7 linked regions of the Homo sapiens genome follow. The protein of the gene in region 7 purifies or fractionates together with the protein of the main gene of each other region. This does not show direct contact. Each region holds a gene or a part of one and is shown on either strand. Other genes may lie near its edges. The genes, in order: ANKRD17, NOS1AP, CKM, RNPS1, PNN, MYH4 and AKAP17A.

What was found.
Region 1: the proteins of AKAP17A (region 7) and ANKRD17 purify together in Homo sapiens (affinity purification with mass spectrometry; 2 studies listed by BioGRID and IntAct, with this or other methods). This does not show direct contact.
Region 2: the proteins of AKAP17A (region 7) and NOS1AP purify together in Homo sapiens (affinity purification with mass spectrometry; 2 studies listed by BioGRID and IntAct, with this or other methods). This does not show direct contact.
Region 3: the proteins of AKAP17A (region 7) and CKM purify together in Homo sapiens (affinity purification with mass spectrometry; 2 studies listed by BioGRID and IntAct, with this or other methods). This does not show direct contact.
Region 4: the proteins of AKAP17A (region 7) and RNPS1 purify together in Homo sapiens (co-immunoprecipitation; 4 studies listed by BioGRID and IntAct, with this or other methods). This does not show direct contact.
Region 5: the proteins of AKAP17A (region 7) and PNN purify together in Homo sapiens (affinity purification with mass spectrometry; 2 studies listed by BioGRID and IntAct, with this or other methods). This does not show direct contact.
Region 6: the proteins of AKAP17A (region 7) and MYH4 purify together in Homo sapiens (affinity purification with mass spectrometry; 2 studies listed by BioGRID and IntAct, with this or other methods). This does not show direct contact.

What each region holds. Positions count from the first base shown.
Region 1 is NC_000004.12:73,073,799-73,077,298, forward strand, and holds part of ANKRD17 (ankyrin repeat domain-containing protein 17), read right to left. Parts: intron 3,307-3,500; coding exon 3,142-3,306; intron 2,493-3,141; coding exon 2,433-2,492; 3' UTR 1-2,432.
Region 2 is NC_000001.11:162,356,191-162,359,690, reverse strand, and holds part of NOS1AP (carboxyl-terminal PDZ ligand of neuronal nitric oxide synthase protein), read right to left. Parts: intron 2,732-3,500; coding exon 2,555-2,731; intron 1-2,554. UniProt on the Homo sapiens protein: Adapter protein involved in neuronal nitric-oxide (NO) synthesis regulation via its association with nNOS/NOS1. The complex formed with NOS1 and synapsins is necessary for specific NO and synapsin functions at a presynaptic level.
Region 3 is NC_000019.10:45,312,876-45,316,375, forward strand, and holds part of CKM (creatine kinase M-type), read right to left. Parts: intron 2,723-3,500; coding exon 2,590-2,722; intron 1-2,589. UniProt on the Homo sapiens protein: Reversibly catalyzes the transfer of phosphate between ATP and various phosphogens (e.g. creatine phosphate).
Region 4 is NC_000016.10:2,258,127-2,261,626, forward strand, and holds part of RNPS1 (RNA-binding protein with serine-rich domain 1), read right to left. Parts: intron 1-3,500. UniProt on the Homo sapiens protein: Part of pre- and post-splicing multiprotein mRNP complexes. Auxiliary component of the splicing-dependent multiprotein exon junction complex (EJC) deposited at splice junction on mRNAs.
Region 5 is NC_000014.9:39,178,254-39,180,986, reverse strand, and holds part of PNN (pinin), read right to left. Parts: intron 1,897-2,733; coding exon 1,741-1,896; intron 1,664-1,740; coding exon 1,525-1,663; intron 485-1,524; coding exon 1-484. UniProt on the Homo sapiens protein: Transcriptional activator binding to the E-box 1 core sequence of the E-cadherin promoter gene; the core-binding sequence is 5'CAGGTG-3'. Capable of reversing CTBP1-mediated transcription repression.
Region 6 is NC_000017.11:10,442,790-10,445,559, reverse strand, and holds the end of MYH4 (myosin-4), read left to right. Parts: intron 1-197; coding exon 198-323; intron 324-413; coding exon 414-584; intron 585-660; coding exon 661-765; intron 766-860; coding exon 861-956; intron 957-2,032; coding exon 2,033-2,185; 3' UTR 2,186-2,270; downstream 2,271-2,770. UniProt on the Homo sapiens protein: Muscle contraction.
Region 7 is NC_000023.11:1,594,604-1,598,103, reverse strand, and holds part of AKAP17A (A-kinase anchor protein 17A), read right to left. Parts: intron 2,721-3,500; coding exon 2,572-2,720; intron 1-2,571. UniProt on the Homo sapiens protein: Splice factor regulating alternative splice site selection for certain mRNA precursors. Mediates regulation of pre-mRNA splicing in a PKA-dependent manner.

The sequences.
Region 1 (3,500 bases), on a different chromosome or scaffold from region 7:
TGGTATAAACTGATTATACAATAATTGAGATATTAACTACTTGGGGATTTAAGGTGTGAACTAACCCAAGTGTAATGTCCAAGAGTTAAATCATTTCTTAAAACAATGATGTAGTCTGCATATACACATACCACATATTTTCAAAATTAAAAAATAAAAGACCTTCATGGTCTCAAAAAGTTATGGGTTTTTTTATTGTTCAAATAAAAGTGCACTGCATTACATCTGAAATATAAAAAATGTATTTTAAAAATGTTCCTAGTACAGACTTCTAAAACCATGGTATTGTACTAAACAAGCCTGATCCCCAAGACTAAATACGGAGCATTTCAATCTATATCCCCTGGCCCCACAGGTTTGAAGTCAAGAAAATATAGGAGTTTTCCCCCTCCTTTTTAAATAAAATACCTCACCTAAGAAATTCAGTATTGTGAAACAACACAACTCATGTGTTGTAATAAATATTGGATAGCATCTGTTCTCCAGCAGGATTACCTTAAATAGAAAATAACCCTAGTTAACACAGGAAAGAATTAAGAAAAAAAATTTTATGTATAGAATAGTGGCAAGTCATATATAAAATACTTCGTTAAATAACATTATTACATCCCTTTTTTAGTAAAGTGCTATAATTTTATTTCATAGCTATATTTATTTGTAGGCTGTCTTTTAGCTCTCCCTTTAAATTTGGGCATATTAAACATAGGTGGAAAAACAAATTTATATATTTTAAGACCACTTCTTAAACTAAAAGATATGAGTGTACTGTTTACAAATTTCTGGATATGTTTGAGAAGTCATCTTTTTACTCTTTACTCAGGCTTTACTCTTTACTCAGATGGAAGAAATCATTTGATTTACTTGACAACCAAGGAACCATGTTAATATCATCAACTCTAGGTGATTTATATGAATTTTAGTTAGTTTTTATGTTTTACCAGTGTGAAATTTTATGTCTAATTAAAAAAAAAGAAGACAAATTGATATATACATTACTCGATTTTTATGCTTACTTTCTTTTACATTTCAACCATATAATTAATTTTTCCATGAGACAGGGTAGGACACATAATCTTCTTGGATACATTACTGTTTATTGTTTCAAGTGGATGGAATATATAAATCCCACTGAGTAGTTTAGTGTGGCCTTGTATCTTTTATAAACAGGTTAAATGGAGACTTTACACTGTAATCTGTGTATTTATCTGTCTACCATAAATTGTCTTCGTGACAAATGCAGAATTTCTTTTATTACTTGGCTCAAATTAACTGTTGATCCTTTTCACTGATAATATACAAGGGTAAAAAAGCAGGAAGCCTTTAAAATTGAAAAAAGAAATAAGATATTTTCCACTAAATTACTGAAAATTGAAATTTTTATGTTGACTGTTGATGACTGAAAAGCCAATGTTAAGAATCAATATCATCCAATATAAAATAGTACATTGAATTATTTAATAAACAGAATATTAAGAGCTTGTATATGCTGACTGGGAACAGTGGTGGCTTTTTAAATTCTCAGAAAGTTTAAACATTTTATAATTAGAAGAAACCACTGGTGATGATGAAGATGGTCCATCTCTGTAGCAGCCATTACAGTGAAAATCTTGACAGAACCTTTTCACTATCAGAAAGATAATTTTACTGGTATTAGTGGTAAAGGTAAGGAGAGAAAAAGGAGTGAGGAGATAAGTCTGTATTAGTTTTAAAAGTGAGAAAAGGTAATAAAACAACATGGAAAAGCCAGAAATTTCTTCTTCTATATGTGCCTTGCTACAAATAAACCAAAAAGAAAGCAAGATGGGTATTTTAAAAGCCAATGTGGGGAAACATCCAATGATAATGCCCATTATTTTACTTTATACTTAAATTACACCAGTAGAAAAGTTATGCTTATTAATAGTTTAATGTATGAAGGAAACATCCAGATTTCTGAATATGAAGGTACATATCTCACATTAATTTAAGTCTACATAAAGTAGAGCCTCTATACTGACATATTGAAATTTACTTTCTGCTTAGCCTTTTCTGTTATGTAAACAATTGTACATTTATTTGCCATTCTAAAACTTCAGGATCAAGTTTACATAATTTTGCTAAATTTCCGTGTTTGCTCAGAAGCAGTTTACAGTACTAAAACCAACCAGCCAAAGAACAGCTTCAACAGAAAGTTATGTCCAAAGGGGAAGAGGGAAAGAAAAAAAGAAAAATGATAAGAAAAATGCTAACTAAGGTAAAACGGATGATGATGGGGAATGGGCAGTCACAAATGTTCACAGAAAATAGGTCAGTTAGTAAGATCTTCTGCAAAAAGCCTACACACTTCAGTCAAGCACATCAGTAGAATGATTTGGGAGCATAATTTTTTTTTTCGGCCACTTGTGATTTCCTCCAAATGAAAAGGAATCTGCAGGCTAACAAGCTGATCCTCATCAGCCAAGCTGGTTCATATGCACACTGTTCATGTGAGGTGCCCAGGGTCCAGTCCACACCTATGAATATAGAGCATGCATTTTACAAAATATATATCTAGCATATATTTTATTAAAATAAAACTTTTAAAAAACTAAGGAGGTACTCTTCAATTTGCAATATACTAGGAACTAATGGAAAAAAATGATAAAAACCTTTTTTCTATTATTTTCCTACCTCTTATCCCTCAAACAGAATCTGATTTACAACCTTTAAAAAAAAAATCATTACCTGAGCATTTATAGATTCACGGTTGTGGAAGAAAAATAAATCAAAGATATTAAACATACACTAAACTAAAATATACAACCATTTATGTGAATTCTCAGAGTTATTTATAGTACCTTTAATAAATAACCTTTAGATGGTCTTTTCACACCACTAGTAAACTTTAATGTATAAAATCATATGACAGTCACTTTGCAACTTAAAATCTTTCATTTATTATCTGCTACCCAGTAGAATATACAATACCTTTCATAATTTTAGCCCCAAACCTGCCTTTGGTACCACTGCCCACAGCCCTCTGCTATATTGCAGCTATATTAGATTTCCTCAACTGCCCATATTCACCAAACTCTCTTGCTATCATGAGTTACCTGAATCCTATTTGTCTTTGCATTTCTTAAACACAAAACAACTGTTTATTCACTGAATGATCAGCCTCACCGTTTGAGGGCCATTATTTTCCGTGGAGCTGGAAACCATCTTTATCAGTGAGTTCCAAGAAGGGTCTGCAGCATGAGGGCCATTAAATATGGGTCCTCCAGCACCATCAGGGATAGGTGCTACTGGAGGAATCATTGCATTCCCATACACAGAAAAAGGCATACCCTTAAAAAAGGAAAACACACACATTAACATCCAAGTCATTGTTCATTTTTCCCAATATAATCAATAGCCTTAAAATTGATATTTGAAAGTTCACCTCATCCTGGGAATGTGTAACTTATCTAAGAAATCTAAAAATTATTACCCATTATATAACTTATTTTAACATTAGATTATACATATGCCTACTATATTCA
Region 2 (3,500 bases), on a different chromosome or scaffold from region 7:
GTCTATTTCAAATGTGTGAAAGATGCCAAGAAGACCCACCTATTAATCCAGCTACATCTTACGTAATTGTTTTTACCCAAGGATATAGACACTAGTAAAAAAGCCCTTGAATTAAACACTACAAAGAAAGTGGAAGAATGAACAGTGTGCGGAGAAACCTCTAACTGAAGGTCAGTTTAGGACCGAATCCGTCTGCAGGACAGGAGAGCTGAAAGCCAGCTGAAATGTACAATATCCCTGCTGTGGTCCTGGACAGCAAAAGCAAGATGCGAACAGAAAGAAGGTAGTCAGAGACAGATGGGCATGGCAGACAGAGGTACAGGAGTATGTTCAAGAACCTATCAGATGACCCCAACGTCCTATCTGATGATTTTGGAAGCCTAAGACTCTCCCTAAAGTCATCTCACAAATGTGGGACACAGATGCAGTATGGTGGCCTTTTGATCACCACACTGCTTGTATTGAGAGTCAAGCAGGGCAACTATATTCAACAGATTCCAAGTGAGTGAGAGGCTAAGGGTGCTCAGCCTGTGGACATGTGGAACCGAGAGAGGCTCATGAAGCAAATCTCTAATACCACACCCTTTCCTTCCCCTAGATTCATTGTCTTCTAGGAGAGACACAATTAAAACAGGGCCAGGGCAGGATTTCCCATGGAGACTGACAATTGATTCTATACCAGAAAACTACTCTTAAGGTTTCATCCTGACTGTAGTAGACCTGTGATAAGTTACATGTCTTGTTGCTTTGGAGATTGAATGCTTCCTTCCACCGCCACAACACTATTGTGTGGATTACACATTTGCAAATAGTTTCTCTCTAGTACTTAGCAGTGACTTCGAATTCAAATGCCTCCCTGATAAAATCATATCATGAATATGCATCAAGCCCACTCTTAGATAAATAATAATTACTTGGCAATTGATACGCTGCAAAATAAAAGTATTATGTTCTGTATTCAATGGGAAACTTGTGGAAATGAAATGAGTCTGAGAATGGACCCGTGCTGCAGTGCTTAGTCTTTGTGCTCCTGTCAACTGTCACACTAGGGAGGGGATTCTCAGACTGCTGTGCCATCATTAACTACAGGAGATGGATTCTTTTATTTGACAAAGAGAAATGATTTTTTTTCTCCAAATATAAGAAGCCATTAATGACATTCCCCCTCTCTGTTGCTGTTTTGGGAACACCTGCAAATCCTCCTAGCATCACGAGATATCCTTTTGTTTCATGGTAAGACTTTTTAAAAAGACTCCGATAACTTGAGAGCTGTGTCCCATTGACTCTACTCTCCTGAAACCTGGCTGCAAAAGTCATCCATGAGCCTTGCATCTCAGGCCCAGGTCAGGAGAGACCGTGTTACAAGAAGGTCTTCTTCAAACCCTGAGTCATAGCAGATCCTGTTATGGCCAGGACGCCGGATGCCTCCTCAAGGTGGAAAGGTGGAAAGGATATCTCTGGCTGGATGATTCAGTCCACTCAAGAGCCAGGACAAGAGTAAGCAGAAGACATAACAGAGAGCAATAAGTGCTCCCTGGAGAAGTCTGCTCCCCGCCATTCTAGAATGCAGAAAACCTAAGTGGTCAACAGTCTGGTCAAGCAGATTTAGAATGTTGATGCAGGCTGCCTTTCCAGATCCTTTACCAATTCTTCCAAGCCCCAACTGCCCCGTCTCCTAAGATCTTCATGCACTCATCAGGCCCTGACCCTGCCTCTCGCCTCAGGATTCAGCCTTGGGTATGAATGAATGTCTTCACCATTCCCTGAGTGCTGGTGGTAGAGAGGGAGCTCAGACTTCCCAAGAAAGATGTGGACTACAGCGCCCTCTATAGAAAGCAAACAAGAAGAATCCCTGCTGAAAGCAGCAAGGGAAATCAGCTCACCCTCCCCTATAATGTAGCAGCCCCCGAACAAGTTTTTTGGGGTACAAACACCACCTTGATTCTGAGATCTAAGCCAATTCTTTTCATTATGGCTCAAATAATACACCTAAATTCCTGTAAGTTAAATCCTACAATAATGAATTCCAATCAAATACTGCCTGGAATAAGTAGATCGTAATGAAGGCTGGGAAACCTGTTATAGACACGGAGACTGGGATGCTAGGGTAGTAATCTTTTTACAACAGTGTTTGGCACAAATTCATACTTTAAGCTGTTTTAAGAGTGGTATCATAAAGCCACAACTGTTCTGACTCCAAAGGCATCACTTTCCACCCCAAATATCAGGAAAGTAAGGCAGGAAAGGAAGGGTGGAATTGTGTGCATCTTTTCCCTTGGTCAGTTCAAGTCATTAACAACATTCAGCCAAGCCAGCCAAGCCCAGCTCAGAGCAGGGGATACATGGGAAACCAAAATGTGCCTCTCCATTTCAACTGCATCCCCCATCTATCCCCCTCCCGCTGCCCCCACTCCCCAACAAGCAATGATCCAATAGCATGAGCGATTCCTTATGACTCCCTAGATTTTAAACCTGCCCTGAGCCCCTCGCTAGGGAAGGTGCATCAAGCCCATGAGAGTGGAGCCTGCGAAGTAGGGAGGAGGCTGAGGAGAACCTGGGCCACAGCCACTTGTGTCTGCTGCTGCTGCTGCTGGAGGAGCTGCTGGAGGAGCTGCATCTGGTGGTGAGTGGACAGCGGTGTCTCTGTGCCCAGGCCTGGAGGCTTCGAGGAAGAAGAAGGGAGCAGCATCCTGGGTGAGGCTGTCAGCATGGGCTCCTGGGGGTGCGAAACCTGGAGGAGAAGGAGAAGACAGGACATGACATGTGGCAGGAGCCATCTTGAGGGGCCTCCCTCTCTTTGGCATGCACTCAGGAGGAGCAAATTGGCACACTTACAACCCATAAGCTGACAGCACTATATCTTCAATGGAAATGGGAGTAGAGGCCCAGAAAGGAAATGGTGTAGCTGCCTGGGCTGATACCACACAGTCAGAAAATCGTAGGGGGACTAGGGGGACACCTCGGTAACTGACCCCGATGGGAGACTGATGGCTGATACTGCTCCATCTCTTGCCCACCACTTCCAATGATACCCTGTCACTGAGTTCCTTGAGGTTCTAGACTTAGAAGAATCTATTTTAGGAAAACGTAGCTTCCATCCACCCTACCATGATAACAGGAAGGACCCAGCTTCAATCCTCTACTCTGCTGTGTCCTTAGGGCTCCCTCCTCCAGGGTCTGAGATGTTCCTTCTCCCTTGTTGGGAGAAGCGTGGAGCTGGGTCCTGGAGGAAGGGGCCATGTGAGGGGGCTACCTCCTGCCCTCCACTGCCTCTGGTGAGAACCATCGGCAAAGAAGTTTGGATCCTAAAATATATAATGATCTGGAGAGATCCTCTTAGATGAAAGAAGTTCCTGTGTCCTTCCCTCCTTTCCTTCTGTCTCCCTCTCCTGTGGACATTTTTACCAAGATGGCTTCTACGATTCATAGAATTCCATGGCAGGGAAAGACATTTTGTTTCTGGCAGTTCTGCTGTGGGGACTTCTTCAGACATACACAAG
Region 3 (3,500 bases), on a different chromosome or scaffold from region 7:
CCCAAGAGGTGGAGGTTGCAGTGAGCTGAGATTTTGCCACTGCACTCCAGCCTGGGTGACAGAGTGAGATTCTGTCTAAAAAAAAAAAAAAGAAAAAAAATTGTGTGTTTATTTGTATATTCATGTATAAAATATGTGTATAATGAATTTGTGTTTGTGCATATGTACAATAAATCTATAATATTTATATATCTTATACATATTCATATAATATACAGACATACCTCGTTTTATTGCATTTTGCAGATACTGTGTTTTTTACAAATTGGAGGTTTGTGGCAACTCTTTGTCCAGCAGGTCTATTGGAGCCATTTTTCCTACAGCATGTGCCACTTCGTGTCTCTGTGTCACATGTGGGTAATTCTCACAGTACTGCAGACTTTCTCATTATTACTATATCTGTCATGGCGATCCGTGATCAGTGATCTCTGATGTTACTGTTTTAATTTTGGGGGGTGCCACCGACCTTGCCCATATAAAAGGGTGAACTTAATGGATAAATGTGTGTGCTCGGACTGCCCCACTGACCAGCCATTCCCTCATCTCTCCCCATCTCCTTGAGCCTCCGTATTCCCTGAGACACATGATTTTGAAATCAGGCCAATTCAGTTCATAACCTTACAATGGCCTCGAGGTGTTCAAGTGAAAGGAAGAGTCAACATTTTTCACTTTAAATAAAAAGCTTCATAGGCCAGGTGCGGTGGCTCACGCCTGTAATCCTAGTGGTTTGGGAGGCTGAGGCAGGCAGATCACCTGAGATCAGGAGTTTGAGACCAGCCTGGCCAAGATGGCGAAACCCCGATTCTACTAAAAATACAAAAATTAGCCAGGCGTGGTGGCGCATGCCGGTGATCTCAGCTACTTGGGTGGCTGAGACACGAGAATTGCTTGAACCACGAGGTGGAGGTAACAGTAAGCCAAGATTGCACCACTGCACTCCAGCCTGGGCGACAAGAGTGTGGCTCCATCTCAAAAAAGAGATTCTTTTCAAACTATTACTGCTGGCCAGGCACTGTGGCTCACACCTGTAATGCCAGCACTTTGGGAGACCAACATGGGAGGATCACTTAAGCCCAGGAGTTGGAGGTTATGGTAAGTCATGATTGCACCACTGCATTCCAGCTGGGCAACAGAACAAGACCCTGTCTTGAAAAGAGAGAGAGAAAGAGAAGGAAGGAAGGAAGGGAGGAAGGGAGGGAGGAAAGAAGGAAGGAAGGAAGGACGGAGAAGAAAAGGGAAGGGAAGGGAAGGAAGGGAGGGAGGGAAGGAAGGGAAGGAAGGGAGGAAGAAAAGAAAGGAAAGGAAGGAAGGAAGGAAGGAAGGAATTGCCGCAGCCATCTCAACCTTGAACGACAACCGCCCTGATCAGTCAGCAGCCCATCAACATCAAGGCAAGGCCCTACACAACAGAAAGGTTCCAACTTGCTGAGTCCTCAAATGATCACAACATTTTTAGCAGGATTTTAAAATTAAGGTATGTACTTTTTTTTTTCTAGACATAATGCTATTGTGCACTTAACAGACTACAGTATAGGATAAACATAACTTTTTTTTTTGAGATGGAGTCACACTCTGTCCCCCAGGCTGGAGTGCAGTGGCGTGATCTCAGCTCACTGCAACCTCTGCCTCCCAGGTTCAAGCGATTCTCCTGCCTCAGTCTCCCAAGTCGCTGGGATTACAGGTGTGTGCCACCAGACCCAGCTGATTTTTGTATTTTTAGTAGAGATGGGGTTTTACCATGTTGGCCAGGCTGGTCTCAAACTCCTGACCTCAAATGATCCACCTGCCTCAGCTTCCCAAAATGCTGGGATTACGGTGTGAGCCACTGTGCCTGGCCTCTTTTTATTTGTTTTTGAGGCAGGTTCTCACTCTGTCACCCTGGCTGGAGTGCAGTGGCACAATCACGATTCACTGCAGCCTCAACCTCCCGGGCTCAAGTGATCCTCCCACCTCAGTCTCCTGAGTAGCTGGGATGACAGGTGTGTGCCACCACTCCTGGCTCATTTTTGTCTTTTTTGTAGAGACAGGGTCTTGCTGTATTGCCCAGTCTGGTCTTGAACTCCTGGGCTCAAGCGACCCTCCCTCCTAGGCCTCCCGCACTGCTGTGGGAGCCACTGTGCCCGGCCTCAACTCCTCCTATCTGAGGTGGCTCCCCTCGGTCATTCTCCACCACACCCATGTCTTGGCTTCATGGCACTTTTGAATTATCTTGTTCATCTGTGGGTTTCTGTATTTCCTCTTGTCTCCCCACCAGCTGAACACTCTGTGAGAACAGTGAGGGACCCCTATCTCCCCACACAGGGCAAGAACCCCTGGAAATGTGTGCTGGATGAACGGATGGCAGGACGCTGGGGGCAGCCAGGTGTCTGCGTAGGTCTTCTCAGGGGCCGTCGGGTCTGGACAGCATCCCTGAATCTCCAACACAGCAGGTAATGCTGACAGCCCGCGCCATTCCCCAAGCCCCCACGATTTACCAAGCTCTTCCCCTACTTTGAAAAGCGGGGGCCCAAAGAGACCCGAGGACCTGCCCATGGAGGAACAGAGCCAGGGCTGGGTGACCCCAGCAGTGGACGGGGTAGGGGCGCTCACCTTCCACAGAGAGCTTCTCCACCGCCCGGCGCTCGCCACGGGAGCAGTGTGGGGGCAACGTGTAGCCCTTGATGCTGCGGCCAGTGCGGACGCGGCTGCTGAGCACGTAGTTAGGGTCCAGGTCGTCTCCACCCTGGAGAGCGGGTGGGAGATCAGGACCAGGCAGATCCTCCGCCCTCTCCAGCAAGCCCAGGTCTCCCCCAGATGCTCCCCTCAGTCTCCCTGTTGCTTCCTTTGCCTTCTGCATCCTCACTGATTGGGTGTGTGGAGCCTCTCCCCGCCACCCATACCTGGGCTCTGTCTCTCCCTTCTCTGTCTCTCTCCCCTCTCCTATCTCTGTTTTTCTTTATACCTCTCTCTCCCCATCTTCGTATATTTCTTTTCCTTTTTTTTCTTCGAGACAGGGTCTCTCTCTGTCGCCCAGGCTGGAGTGCAGTGGTGCCATCATAGCTCACTGCAACCTCAAACTCCTGGGCTCAAGCAATTCCCCTGCCTCAGCCTCCCAAGTAGCTGGGACTAACAGGTAGGTATATGCCACCATGTTCGGCTAACTTAAAATAAATTTTTTATAAATAGAGACAGGGGCTGGGCGCGGTGGCTCACACCTGTAATCCCAACACTTTGGGAAGCCGAGGTGAGCCAATCACCTGAGGTCAGGAGTTCGAAACCAGCTTGGCCAACATGGTGAAACCCCATTTCTACTAAAAATACAAAAATTAGCTGGGCGTGGTGGTGCGCGCCTGTAATCCCAGCTACTCAGGAGGCTGAGGCACGAGAATCACTTGAACCTGGGGATCAGGGGTTTCCGTGAGCTGAGATCGAGCCACTGCACTCCAACCTGGGTGACAGAGTGAGATTCTGTCTCAAAAAAAAAAAAAAAATAGAGACAGGGTGTCACTATGTTGCCCAGG
Region 4 (3,500 bases), on a different chromosome or scaffold from region 7:
ATAAACTGTATAGATTCAGTAAATCCAGTCACTCAGCAAAATAAACTAAAAATGCTGAAATACTGGGAAACTTCTGGTTCTCAGAAATGATTAAAGGAAATATTCCCATATAAAAAGCCAAATGTATTCTATGTAAGAAAACTGAATTTGATCCTTAAGCTTTTAACAGATTGGAAACTCTCTAAAATGTTAATCTACGCATATTTGCTAATTTTTTTCCCCCAAGAATAGTGTTCCTTTAAACTGGAGCTACAAAAAAAAGGTGTTCCTAAAACATCTTTTCGGTAATCACACACCCACTAAGAACTGGAATCCATGCCGGGCGCGTTGGCTCACGCCTGTAATCCCAGCACTTTGGGAGGTTGAGGCGAGAGGATCACCTGAAGTCAGCAGTTTGAGACAGGCCTGGCCAACATGGTGAAACCCCATCTCTACTAAAAACACAAAAATTAGCCAGGTGTGGTGGCGGGAGCCTGTAATCCCAGCTACTTGGGGAGGCTGAAGCAGAAGAATTGCTTGAACCCAGGAGGTGGAAGTTGCAGTGAGCCAAAATCATGCCACTGCACACCAGCGTGGGCGACAGAGCAAGACTCTGTCTCAAAAAAAGGTGTGGGAGGTTGATTGTAAAGAAAATTCTGTATGTAAACATGCTGGCTAAAGTTAAAGGGGTATCATCTAGTTTTTCTGTAAATTAAGCATTAAAATTACGTTTAGGCCGGGCGCAGTGGCTCACACCTGTAATCCCAGCTGCTTTGGGAGGCCAAGGCGGGTGGATCACCTGAGGTCTGGAGTTCAAGACCAACCTGGCCAACATGGTGAAACCATGTCTCTACTAAAAATACAAAAATTAGCTGGATATAGTGGAGGTTGCCTGTAATCCCAGCTACTCGGGAGGCTAAGGCAGGAGAACTGCTTGAACCCAGGAGGCGGAGGTTGCAGTGAGCCAAGATTGCACCATTGTACTCCAGCCTGGGCAACAAGAGCAGAAAAAAGTCTCAAAAAAAAAAAAAAAAAGGATTGGGTTTTAACATTAACAGCACACTGATGTAAAAGTGAAATTTGGCTTATTTGGTACCAAAAATTATACAGGAAGCACTACCAAATATAAAATTGGGTTTGGCTTTGTTTGGGCTGTATTTGTATAAATGTTATTGATATGTGTCCCAAAATCACGTAAAACTCCTACAATTGCAATATATCCTAGTGTACATGATCAGTAATAATTATAATTGTTATGTTAAATTATTGTGTGCCACAGAGCTAACAAATTTCGTCAATTGTGTCTTTAACTATGGCTGCCCTAAAACCTTTTTGTCATCCATAAACAATTGTTGTCTTGTTTTAATCCTTTTTAGAAGGTGGTTTTATAATCAGCTATAGAGTTCTAACAGTTGCTCTTAAATACAGATTTCTAATAACTTTGCAGATTGTGACATCAGAATAAAGAAAAAACATTCAGGACTCTTAAAGAGCTAAAATAAGGCCGGGTGCAGTGGCTCACGCCTGTAATCCCAGCACTTTGGGAGGCTGAGGCGGGCGGATCACGAGGTCAGGAGATCCAGACCATCCTGGCTAACAGGGTGAAACTCCATCTCTACTAAAAATACAAAAAATTAGCTGGGTGTGGTGGCCGGTGCCTGCAGTCCCAGCTACTCGAGAGGCTGAGGCAGGAGAATGGTGTGAACCCAGGAGGTGGAGCTTGCAGTGAGCCGAGATTGCGCCACTGCACTCCAGCCTGGGCGACAGAGCGAGACTCCGTCTCAAAAAAAAGAAAGGTAAAGCGTTCATTAATATCAAGCAGGGCAGAAATTAACTGCATAAACTGAACTAATAGAACACTGAAGTAATCTTTTTAACTTTTTGCTTAAAATATTCCTAATCCTTTTATTTTTCAAAGTCAAAAAAAGTTTTAAGCTATCAACAATTAAGTATACGCCTAGGAACAAAACTTGGAGCATATTTGTTTCTCTCTACCTAATTTCTTCAGAATTTGGAAACTATTTGTGTGTGTGTGTGTATTCTTTTTTTTTTTTTTTTTTTTTTTTTTGAGACCTAGTCTCACTTTGTTGCCCAGGCTGGAGTGCAGTGGCGTAATCTTGGCTCGCTGCAATCCCTGCCTCCTAGGTTCAAGCAATTCTCCTGCCTCAGCCTCCCAAGTAGCTGGGACCACAGGTGTGTGCCATCATGCCCGGCTAATTTTTGTATTTTTATTAGAGACGGGGTTTCACGATGTTGGCCACGCTGGTCTCAAACTCCTGACCTCAGGTGATCCATGTTGCCCAGTCTATTTGTACGTATTCTTAATTTATAGCAATATAGTTATTTGCGTAAGTGCAATAAAAATCCGTTTTCTTTTGTAACAGAACACAAATAAAAAACCGGCCTCCTATTTTGTGTACACAGTCCCTGTACAGGGTTTCTAATCTGAGGGAAGTAAAACATGCCACTTTCTAATGGACAAAAACCTCAAGTTATCTTGGAACCTCAAGAGGAGAGGATTTCACCCAACTCACAGGTATTTAATTGTACATATCCATGGCTGGGCTTGGGTTTAAAAAGGTATTATCTCAGATAAAAGGCCTATAGAAAAAATTATGGTTCTTGCTCCACTGTATACAAATAATTAAGCCAAATATAATAAAGCAAACCAGTCTTGTCTTTTAATAAATACCAGTCCTATTTGTCTTTTAATAAAAATGGGAAGCCCCCAAAAAAAATTGTTGGCTGGGCATGGTGGCTCATGCCTGTAATCCCAGCACTTTGGGAGGCCGAGGCAGGCGGATCACAAGGTCAGGAGATCCAGACCATCCTGGCTAACACGGTGAAACCCCGTCTCTACTAAAAATACAAAAAATTAGCCAGGCATGGTGGTGGGCGCCTGTAGTCCCAGCTACTCGGGAGGCTGAGGGAGGAGAATGGCATGAACCTGGTAGGCAGAGCTTGCAGTGGGCCGAGGTGGTGCTACTGCACTCCAGCCTGGGCGACAGAGCCAGACTCCGTCTCAAAAAAAAAAAAAAATTGTTTCAAAAACTATAGTACACCCAAATACTGTTCTCAATTTTTTCCTTTTTTGTTTCCTTTTTCCTAATTGGAAATCACTGAAATCTAAGCTATGCTTTCCTCAAGCCCTGTAAACTGAAGACTAAACTTGGGAAGAAAACAGCAGCAACCTACTTCTATGTGTGGCTGTTGCATCCTATTACGTTTCAGCAGGTGCTGCCTCGAAGCCCCCAGAACAGAAAGTGCTACCGGGAACAAATCCACCTCTTCCACTCCAGCGCTGTGTTTGGTGCCCCATGACGACAACCCTCTCTCAGCAGGAAGCAGCCAGAAAGATTACAATGCTTCATCTCCCTACGATTCTCGTGATTAATAAATACATATACATGCATGATAAAAAGCATGAGCAAATTGACAGTGGGGATTGTGGCAGGCCAGGTCTCACTAACGCAGGCCTCTGTAACAAGTGTTTTAGTACTGTCTGAGTAGTTAAATATTAA
Region 5 (2,733 bases), on a different chromosome or scaffold from region 7:
TCCAATTCTTTGCTAGCTTCATTTTCTGAAGGTTCTACACTTTCAACTCGATTAGTTTCCATTACCTCCTGGTCAGCAATTACATGTTTGACATTCTCAACCATCTCTAGCACATCCATAACTTCTTCAGGCTGACTATCCTGCTGCTTCTCACTTTCCCTTACCTCAGTTTCCTCCTCCATCTTAACCTCCATTTCCTGTTTTTGTTCTTCCTCCTCCTGTTCTTTCTCTGCATCACTATGAACAATCGCTATTTCCTTTTCCTCTTCCTCTCCTGCTTCCTCTATTTCTACATCATTGTGCTGATTACCTGTCTCCTCCAACTCTTCCTCTCGCTGAGCCACCTTACCCTCTTCTTGTTCCGCCTTCTGTTCTTCATTACGCACCACCTGATGCTCTTTTTCCTTCATTGATTGTCTTCTAGGCCTAGCCTCCATTTTATTTATTTGTTCTGCAAATTCGATGCGTCTACCTTCAAATAAAGCTAAAGAATAAAAATTTACATGTGTAAAATTTACCGATTAAGAAAATTCAAAGCCATAATTTTATAACTGGTCACAAATTGTCATTAAGCTTCATCTGAATTTGTTTTTGTAAAGTTATGACAAAAGATTATGGCAATTAAGTAACCACAAACTGACATAAAATTATAAAAGCAAAGATCCATGGGAAATCTACATACTAGAAATTGTGGCAGACAGAACTACACATTTTCTAACTGATGAAGAAAACAGATCAATCTTTATGTCTGATGAAAAATAAAACTTCTGTAAAACAGAACCAGTTTTGGCATAAAATCATATATATTAATTTTTCTGATCCCAAAGAGATAAATCATCATCTTAGCAGTGTCTATCCTTCCATGTGTTTTCCATCTAGAAACTGAGTTGGTTTTCACATTTGTCTTATTAGCATTTTATCAGAACAATAATAGCATGCAAAAAAAAGTAATTTTACACAAATGCTTAAGGAATACAGATGCATAAGCACTGTCTATAACTTTCACATTAAACTCCATCATGATACAAATATTCCTATACTACAAACTCACCAGCATCTCAGAATGTATCTTTTTTTTTTTTTTTGAGATGGAGTCTAGCTCTGTTGCCCAGGCTGGAGTTCAGTGGCGTAATCTCGGCTCACTGCAACTTCTGCCTCCCAGGTTCAAGTGATTCTCCTGCCTCAGCCTGCCAAGTAGCTGGAATTACAGGTGCCCACCACCATGCCCAGCTAATTTTTTTTGTATTTTTAGTAGAGACTAGAGACGGGGTTTCACCATGTTAGCCGGGATGGTCTCGATCTCCTGACCTCATGATCTGCCTGCCTCAGCCTCCCAAAGTGCTGGGATTACAGGCGTGAGCCACCACGCCCGGCCTAGAATATCTTATTATCTTATTTAAAAAAAAAAAGCAAACACAGCAAACCAATCACTGAATCATAATTATTTTAGAAAACAAACGTGTGCATATGAACATATTACCTTACCCACTATGAACAATTCAATGGACCTCTTCGCATACTTACCGTTCATTTTTCTCTGTGACTCTTCTATTAGTTTTTGGGTAGCTGGACACATTCTTCCAGGAATATAAAACAAATGGGGCTTTGTCTTAGTTCTTATATATTTAATTATTTTGGCATTATGTTCATTCCATTCTTCTTGCTAAAGAAAAGGTAAAGGGTCAGTGCTTTTGTAAACACAAAGGATTACCAATCTTAGAATTCCAAATTACCACTCACCAGCTGCGCAAGCTCAACTTTCTGTTCCAAAAGCCGCAGTTCTGTCTGTTTAGCACGCCTCTCTTCAAACAGTTCTCTCCTTTCATTTTCAACCTGCTTTCTCTCTTCTTCTGCCTGAACTTCAAGTTTTTGTTCAATTTCCTGGCGCCGCTTTTGCTAAAAGTTAAGTAGCCTGCTTTAATACTTACGTGTTGAAATAGTTACAACAAAAGGTATATATGATTTCAGTTCAATTATGATAAAAAGTTATTACACATACTAATTACGTGAAACATTAGAGGCAGGTAGATCATCTGAAGTCAGAAGCCAACACCACCATCTCTACTAAAAACACAAAAAAATTAACAGGGCGTGGTTGCACGCACCTATAATCCCAGCTACTTGGGAGGCCGAAGCAGGAGAAATCACTTGAACCCCAGAGGCGGAGGTTGCAGTGAGCTGAGATCACGCCACTACACTCCAGCCTGAGCAAGAAGAGCCAAACTCCATCTCAAAAAAAATTTTTTTTTTTTTTTTTTTTTTCACTATGTAAAGGTATCTGCAGGCCGGGCACAGTGGCTCACACCTGTCATCCCAGCACTCTGGGAGGCTGAGGTGGGTGGATTGCTTTGAGCTCAGACCAGCCTGGGCAACATGATAAAACCCCATCTCTACAAAAAAAAAGAAAAAGAAAAAAAAAAGGTATCTGCATATGCTTCACATTTTTTCTTTTTTTGAGATGGAGTTTTGCGCCTGTTGCCCAGGCTGGGGTACAATAGTGTGATCTTGGCTCATTGCAACCTCACCTCCAGGGTTCAAGTGATTCTCTTGCCTCCGCCTCCCAAATAGCTGGGGATTACAGGCGCATGCCACCACAGGCGGCTAATTTTGTATTTTTAGTAAAGACAGGGTTTCACCATGTTGGCCAGGCTGGTCTCGAAAAACTTCTGACCTCAGGTGATCCACCTGCCTCAGCCTCCCAAAGTGCTGGGATTACAGGCATGAGCCACTGCA
Region 6 (2,770 bases), on a different chromosome or scaffold from region 7:
ATTAAATTTAGAAGTTTGATTAAAGAGCTATATATAGAAAGGAGAAAAGGCATAAACTTAGAATTATCTTCTAATTTGGTTTTTATTCTAAACATTTCTTATGATCAATAATTTTTGCCTGTGTACACTAGGTAAAATGACAATGTGAGTTGTTATAAGTAAATGTGCTTCTCTTCTCTTTCATTAATTTGAAACAGAACACCAGCCTGATCAACACCAAGAAGAAGCTGGAAACAGACATTTCCCAAATCCAGGGAGAGATGGAGGACATCGTCCAGGAAGCCCGCAATGCAGAGGAGAAGGCCAAGAAGGCCATCACTGATGTAAGCAAGATGAGCATTTGTCTTACTGACACATGCATGCTGCCTGCTATCATCAGAATTCATTATTTTCAAAATTTATTTGCTAACTAGGCTGCCATGATGGCTGAGGAGCTGAAGAAGGAACAGGACACCAGCGCCCACCTGGAGCGGATGAAGAAGAACATGGAGCAGACCGTGAAGGATCTGCAGCTCCGTCTGGATGAGGCTGAGCAGCTGGCGCTGAAGGGTGGGAAGAAGCAGATCCAGAAACTGGAGGCCAGGGTAGGTCTCCACAACTTCACTCAATTCCTTGTGGCCAGTTACAGCCAAACTGGTAAACGTCTTTGTTCCCTTCCAGGTGAGAGAGCTTGAAAGTGAGGTGGAAAGTGAACAGAAGCACAATGTTGAGGCTGTCAAGGGTCTTCGCAAACATGAGAGAAGAGTGAAGGAACTCACTTACCAGGTGACCAGTGTTTTCATATCTTCCAGGCCTATAGTTTTCAAGAAAATCATGAGTTGTTTTAAAATAATGGCACCATCTACTTGCACCTCTTTCAGACTGAGGAGGACCGCAAGAATATTCTCAGGCTGCAGGACTTGGTGGACAAATTGCAAACCAAAGTCAAAGCTTACAAGAGACAAGCTGAAGAGGCTGTGAGTATCTCCACAGTGGAAATGAAAGGTTCAGATGCACATCCAGGTTTTTTGGGGCCTAAAGTTTATAGAATTTAGGGGGTTTTCTTTAAATTGGGAATACATAATTAGGTATGAACATGAATATTTAGAATGAGAAAAATGAACCATAAATTACTGGAGCCTTATAGATTTGAGTTTATTTCTTCTGAGACCTCTTTAAGCAATTTTCCAGACATGTTAACATACAAATGTTTCTTAGTTGCAATCCACTTCCCTCCCTATCTAGAACATTCTACAACCCCCAGCACTCATATGGACCTGTGCAAATGAGAGTATGAATTCTAAGCTTCATTTAACTTCATGATAAATCCATCTTGGGACTTTTTTTTTCAATTTGGCTGCAGTTATCTTTTTCATTCTGTTAATTCTGAAACCTTCCTTAGGGTTCTTGGCACCAAATGCCACTACTGCACCTATTTTTTAAAGTTTCTTTTTTAGAAACAAGATTGAATTCAGATCCCTGCTACTTTGTTCTTCCAGTTATCACTGCAGCCTCTTCAGTTTGCCAGAAAGAGAGTCAAGTGAGAGAGAGACTTGAGGAGGGTCATAAGCACATTCATTTACATAGGCGAGTTTGTGGGATGCCTTGCTCTCAAATAACTATGTTACTAAATAATAAAGCCTTTTTCTCTTCTTTTTTTTTTTTTCGAGGCAGAGTTTTGCTCTTGTTGCCCAGGCTGGAGTGCAATGGCACAATCTCAGCTCACTGCAATCTCTGCCTCCTGGGTCCAAGAGATTCTCCTGCCTCAGCCTCCTGAGTAGCTGGAATTACAGGCATCCACCACTACGCTGGGCTAATTTTAGTAAAGATGGGGGTTTCACCATGTTGGCCAGGCTGGTCTCGAATTCCTGACCTCAGGTGATCCACCCGCCTCAGTCTCCCAGAGTGCTGGGATTACAGGTGTGAGCCACCATGCCTGGACAACGGAGCCTTTTTCTTTCTCATTCATGAGGCAAATCCTGAAGTAACAAAAGCAATAACAATCAGGAAATGTCCAATTTTCTTGTTATCTCAAATGCATCTCTGTTCTCAGGAGGAACAATCCAATGTCAACCTTGCCAAGTTCCGCAAGCTCCAGCACGAGCTGGAGGAGGCCAAGGAACGGGCTGACATTGCTGAGTCCCAAGTCAACAAGCTGAGAGTGAAGAGTCGGGAGGTTCACACAAAAGTCATAAGTGAAGAGTAATTCATTCTAATGAAAGAAAATGTGACCAAAGAAATGCACGAAATGTGAAGTTCTTTGTCACTGTCCTGTATATCAAGGAAATAAAATCTTTAGATAATTTTGCATCTAAAAATACATTTGTCTCTTAATTATAAGCTCTTTAGTGCTATTAGAACTAATTCCTTTATTCAACATTTGTGGAGTTCCTAATATGTGCAATCAGAGATAATAACAAAAATGAATGTAGGCAGTGAACCCAACTTTAATGGAAGGTAAATGAAATAAGGTGCTCTGAGAAGACATGAAGGTGACAAACGCACTCTCAATTCCATTCAACCAATTTTACTGAGTATCAACTATATGTCTGGTACAGAAATGGACACGAAAGATGTGACAGTTATCCCTGTCTTTGAGAAGTTCAATCCAGTGTGGAAGACGGCAGTTCAAAAAGATATACGCTGTATGTATGTGCAACATACATACTCTGACATGAGTGTGAAAAACAAATGTGGCAATAACATAGAGTGAGCTGCTAACTTTGGAAATCCAGAAAGGCTTCTCAAAGGAGACTATGAGCTGATTCCTAAAAGAGGACCAGACAGTTAT
Region 7 (3,500 bases):
AGCTTTCAGAGGACAGCTCTCATCAAGCTCAAAGTTACACGTGAGGGCTGAACAAGCAAACATGCCTCATCTCCACCCACCAGAAAGAAATGCAGGAGGCTGCCCTGGGCCTCCCCTCATGCTCAGCCTCTGAGGAAGGACAGTGGGGGACAGCGGGGACAAGTACGGCCCTGCGTGTGGAGCCCTCCTGGCCAGCTCCCCCAGACAACAGGCCTGCCCCTCCCCGGGGCTCTGGACACCCCATCCTGCTCTCGAGAACCTCATGGCCCGGCCCCGCTTCCCCCAATCCCTCTGTGGTCTGGCCAGGCAGACGGGGTCCCTTCCCTGCAGAGACACACTCCACTACTCCAACGTCCATCTCTCCTCAGGGAAAGATCAAGGATGCAGCTTCTTCTCCGCACCCGCAAGCTGCTTTCTGAAATGTTGCGGGGACACTCCTGCGACACCGAGAGGTCCGAGGCTCTGAGTCCCACTCCACACTTCCAGAATGTGGACAGGCACATTCAGCCAGGCCTGGGCTGTGTCTGCAGCCTGGAAGAGTCCCTGTAACGCCCCAGGACTGTCTCCCACCCCAGCTGTCCTGCTCGGCCTGACAGTGGCTGACACAGGGGACCCGGACTCAACCCCACATCCGAACCGCCCCTCCCAGGGACCGCCTCCCAGGATGGCGACGCAGCAGCATGTCCCTCCCTCCCAGGGCGTCTGCCTCTCTGTGCTGCCTGCCTTAGGTCCTGGGAATCCTGACGGCTGACATGGGCCCCCCCAGCACATTCACGGCCACTCGCTTACACACTGCACCTGCCTCACCTAAGGAGCCCTCGGGGTTCAGATTCAGAGGCTGACAACCCGACTCTCCCCTGGGGAGGCAACGGGGGCTACGTAAAGAACACCACGGGCAGGATGGACCTGCTCCCAGGAGTTCAGTGCCGGGACTCTCGTGCAAACATCACCAGCCACACACATCAACACGCTGGCACCAGCGTCACATAAAGCAGTGAGAAATGGAAACAAAACGGACCAACTCGGTCCCACCAGAGGCTGTCCAGGAGCCCCCCAGCCAAGTCCAACACGTCCCAGACTTGATATCGGCGACATGAAGCGCAACAGACGTGCAGGACGCACCAAAGTCGTCAGAGGACACAGCGGGAGGGACGGAGGACGAAGAGGAGTAGGAGGAGGAGGATTCCGCCTCACTAGGAGGGTGGGAGGGACGGAGAAGGAGGAGGAGGAATCCACCTCACTAGGAGGACACGGCAGGAGGGATGGAGGAGGAAGAGGACGAATCCGCCTCACTAGGAGGGCACAGCGGGAGGGATGGAGGAGGAAGAGGAGGAGGAGGAGGAATCCACCTCACTAGGAGGGTGGGAGGGACGGAGAAGGAGGAGGAGGAATCCACCTCACTAGGAGGGTGGGAGGGATGGAGGAGGAGGAGGAGGAATCCACCTCACTAGGAGGGTGGGAGGGATGGAGGAGGAGGAGGAGGAATCCACCTCACTAGGAGGGTGGGAGGGATGGAGGAGGAGGAGGAGGAATCCACCTCACTAGGAGGGTGGGAGGGATGGAGGAGGAAGAGGAGGATTCCGCCTCACTAGGAGGGTGGGAGGGATGGAGGAGGAGGAGGAGGAATCCACCTCACTAGGAGGGTGGGAGGGATGGAGGAGGAGGAGGAGGAGGAGGATTCCGCCTCAGGGGATTCACAGAAAGTTGTTGGTTCCCTCCTGCAATGCTAAGAAGATAAAAGGGGCTACAAAGAGTGACCTGAGGTTGTCTCTGGTACCCCAACCACAGTGAACGACCCAGGCAATTGCTTTAAAGGCCTCTTATGTGAAACCGGGTTTTTGTCCTATCATTGGTTTTTTGTTTTTTTTTTTTTTTTTAAATCTGGCCATCACCATCAACCCTCTACTTCATTTTGTAAATGTAGCCTCAACCTAAATGCAAACTTGCAAACAGCCAAGGCATTCTGCTTGTTTCAGCGGGAGGTGTGAACAGCATGTGGAGGGAGAAGAGGTGGCTCTTCGGGCAAGGCGCGGTCCTGGGAGCCGGCAGAGATCGTGTCAGACCACGACGTGTGACAAGAAAAAGAGAAACATTCATATTCTGCTGCGTCTCAAACAGCCACTCACGCAGGTCCTCACGTGCACAGCTGAGCACCCACAGGCCTGCACACACACCCATACGTGCACACACAAGTACACACACGGGTTCACAGGCACACACGCATGCACACAGGCACATGTGTGCTATGTGCCGATACAGAAGCACACACATGTGGGCACACGTGCACATACACACACAGGTACACACACGAGCTCACACACATGCACGCACACACAGGCACACGTGCACACAGATGCTCAGGCACACACTCGGGCGCACATAGGGACATACAAAGTACACACACCGGTTCACAGGCACACGTGCGTCCATGCACACAGGTACACACACAAGCTCACAAGCATGCATGCACACACACACGCACAGGAATACATGCAGACACACGCACACGGGTCTGCGCACACTCCCAGGTGCCGGACACCAGCGCCGAGGGCCCGCTCCCGCAGAAGGTACCTTTCCTCCGCTCGCTGCCTCTCCTCCGCTTCCTTCTCTCTGCGCTTTTGTTCTTCTCTTTGCTGCTCCAGTTCCTGAAGCTTCTGCCTCTCCAGCTGCCGCTTCTTAATTGAGGCATCACTCAGGTGTTTGGTCGAATCAAAAGAAACCTTTAAAAGCAAAAACAGTGTCAGATGGCCTTCCCCCAAAACCCCCCAGACACACGGCCAGGCGCCCTCTCCTGGGCCGTAGGGCCGAGTGGCCTCAGAGCCTGAGCGCCCGCTCACCGCTCACCGCTCACCACTCATGTCCGGTGCAGACCCAGACAGTGGAGCCCAGAAGCCAAACCAATCCCTTCAAGTCACCATCAGTGGCTCAAGACTTAGCTCATCCCACGGAGTTACGACTCAGCGAGGAACACCAACTAGCCCTCGCCACTTACTGAACACAAGTGACACGCCACCGCTGCGAGACACAGCTCCCCTTCCGCTACCCGGCTCCACCATTCCCTGTGGCCACAGTCACTGAGCAGGCCGCCTGCCCACACCCACAGGGCACATCTTAAGGCCACAAAACCCCCTCCAGGAGGCTGGCTCATTTGTCACTGTGAAGCCAACACGGTCAAAACACGAGGCTAGGCTGAGCGCAGTGGCTCACGCCTGTAATCCCAGCACTTTGGGAGGGCGAGGCAGGCAGTTCATGAGGTCAGGAGTTCGAGACCAGCCTGGCCAATACGGCAAAACCCTGTTTCTACTAAAAATACAAAAATTAGCCAGGTGTGATGGCACGCGCCTGTAGTCCCAGCTACTCGGGAGGCTGAGGCAGAAGAATCGCTCGAACCCAGGAGGCGGAGGATGCACTGAGCAAAGATTGCGCCACTGCACTCCAGTCCAGGAAACAGATCGAGACTCTGCCTCGAAAAAAAAATAAAAATAAAAAAAATAAAAAAA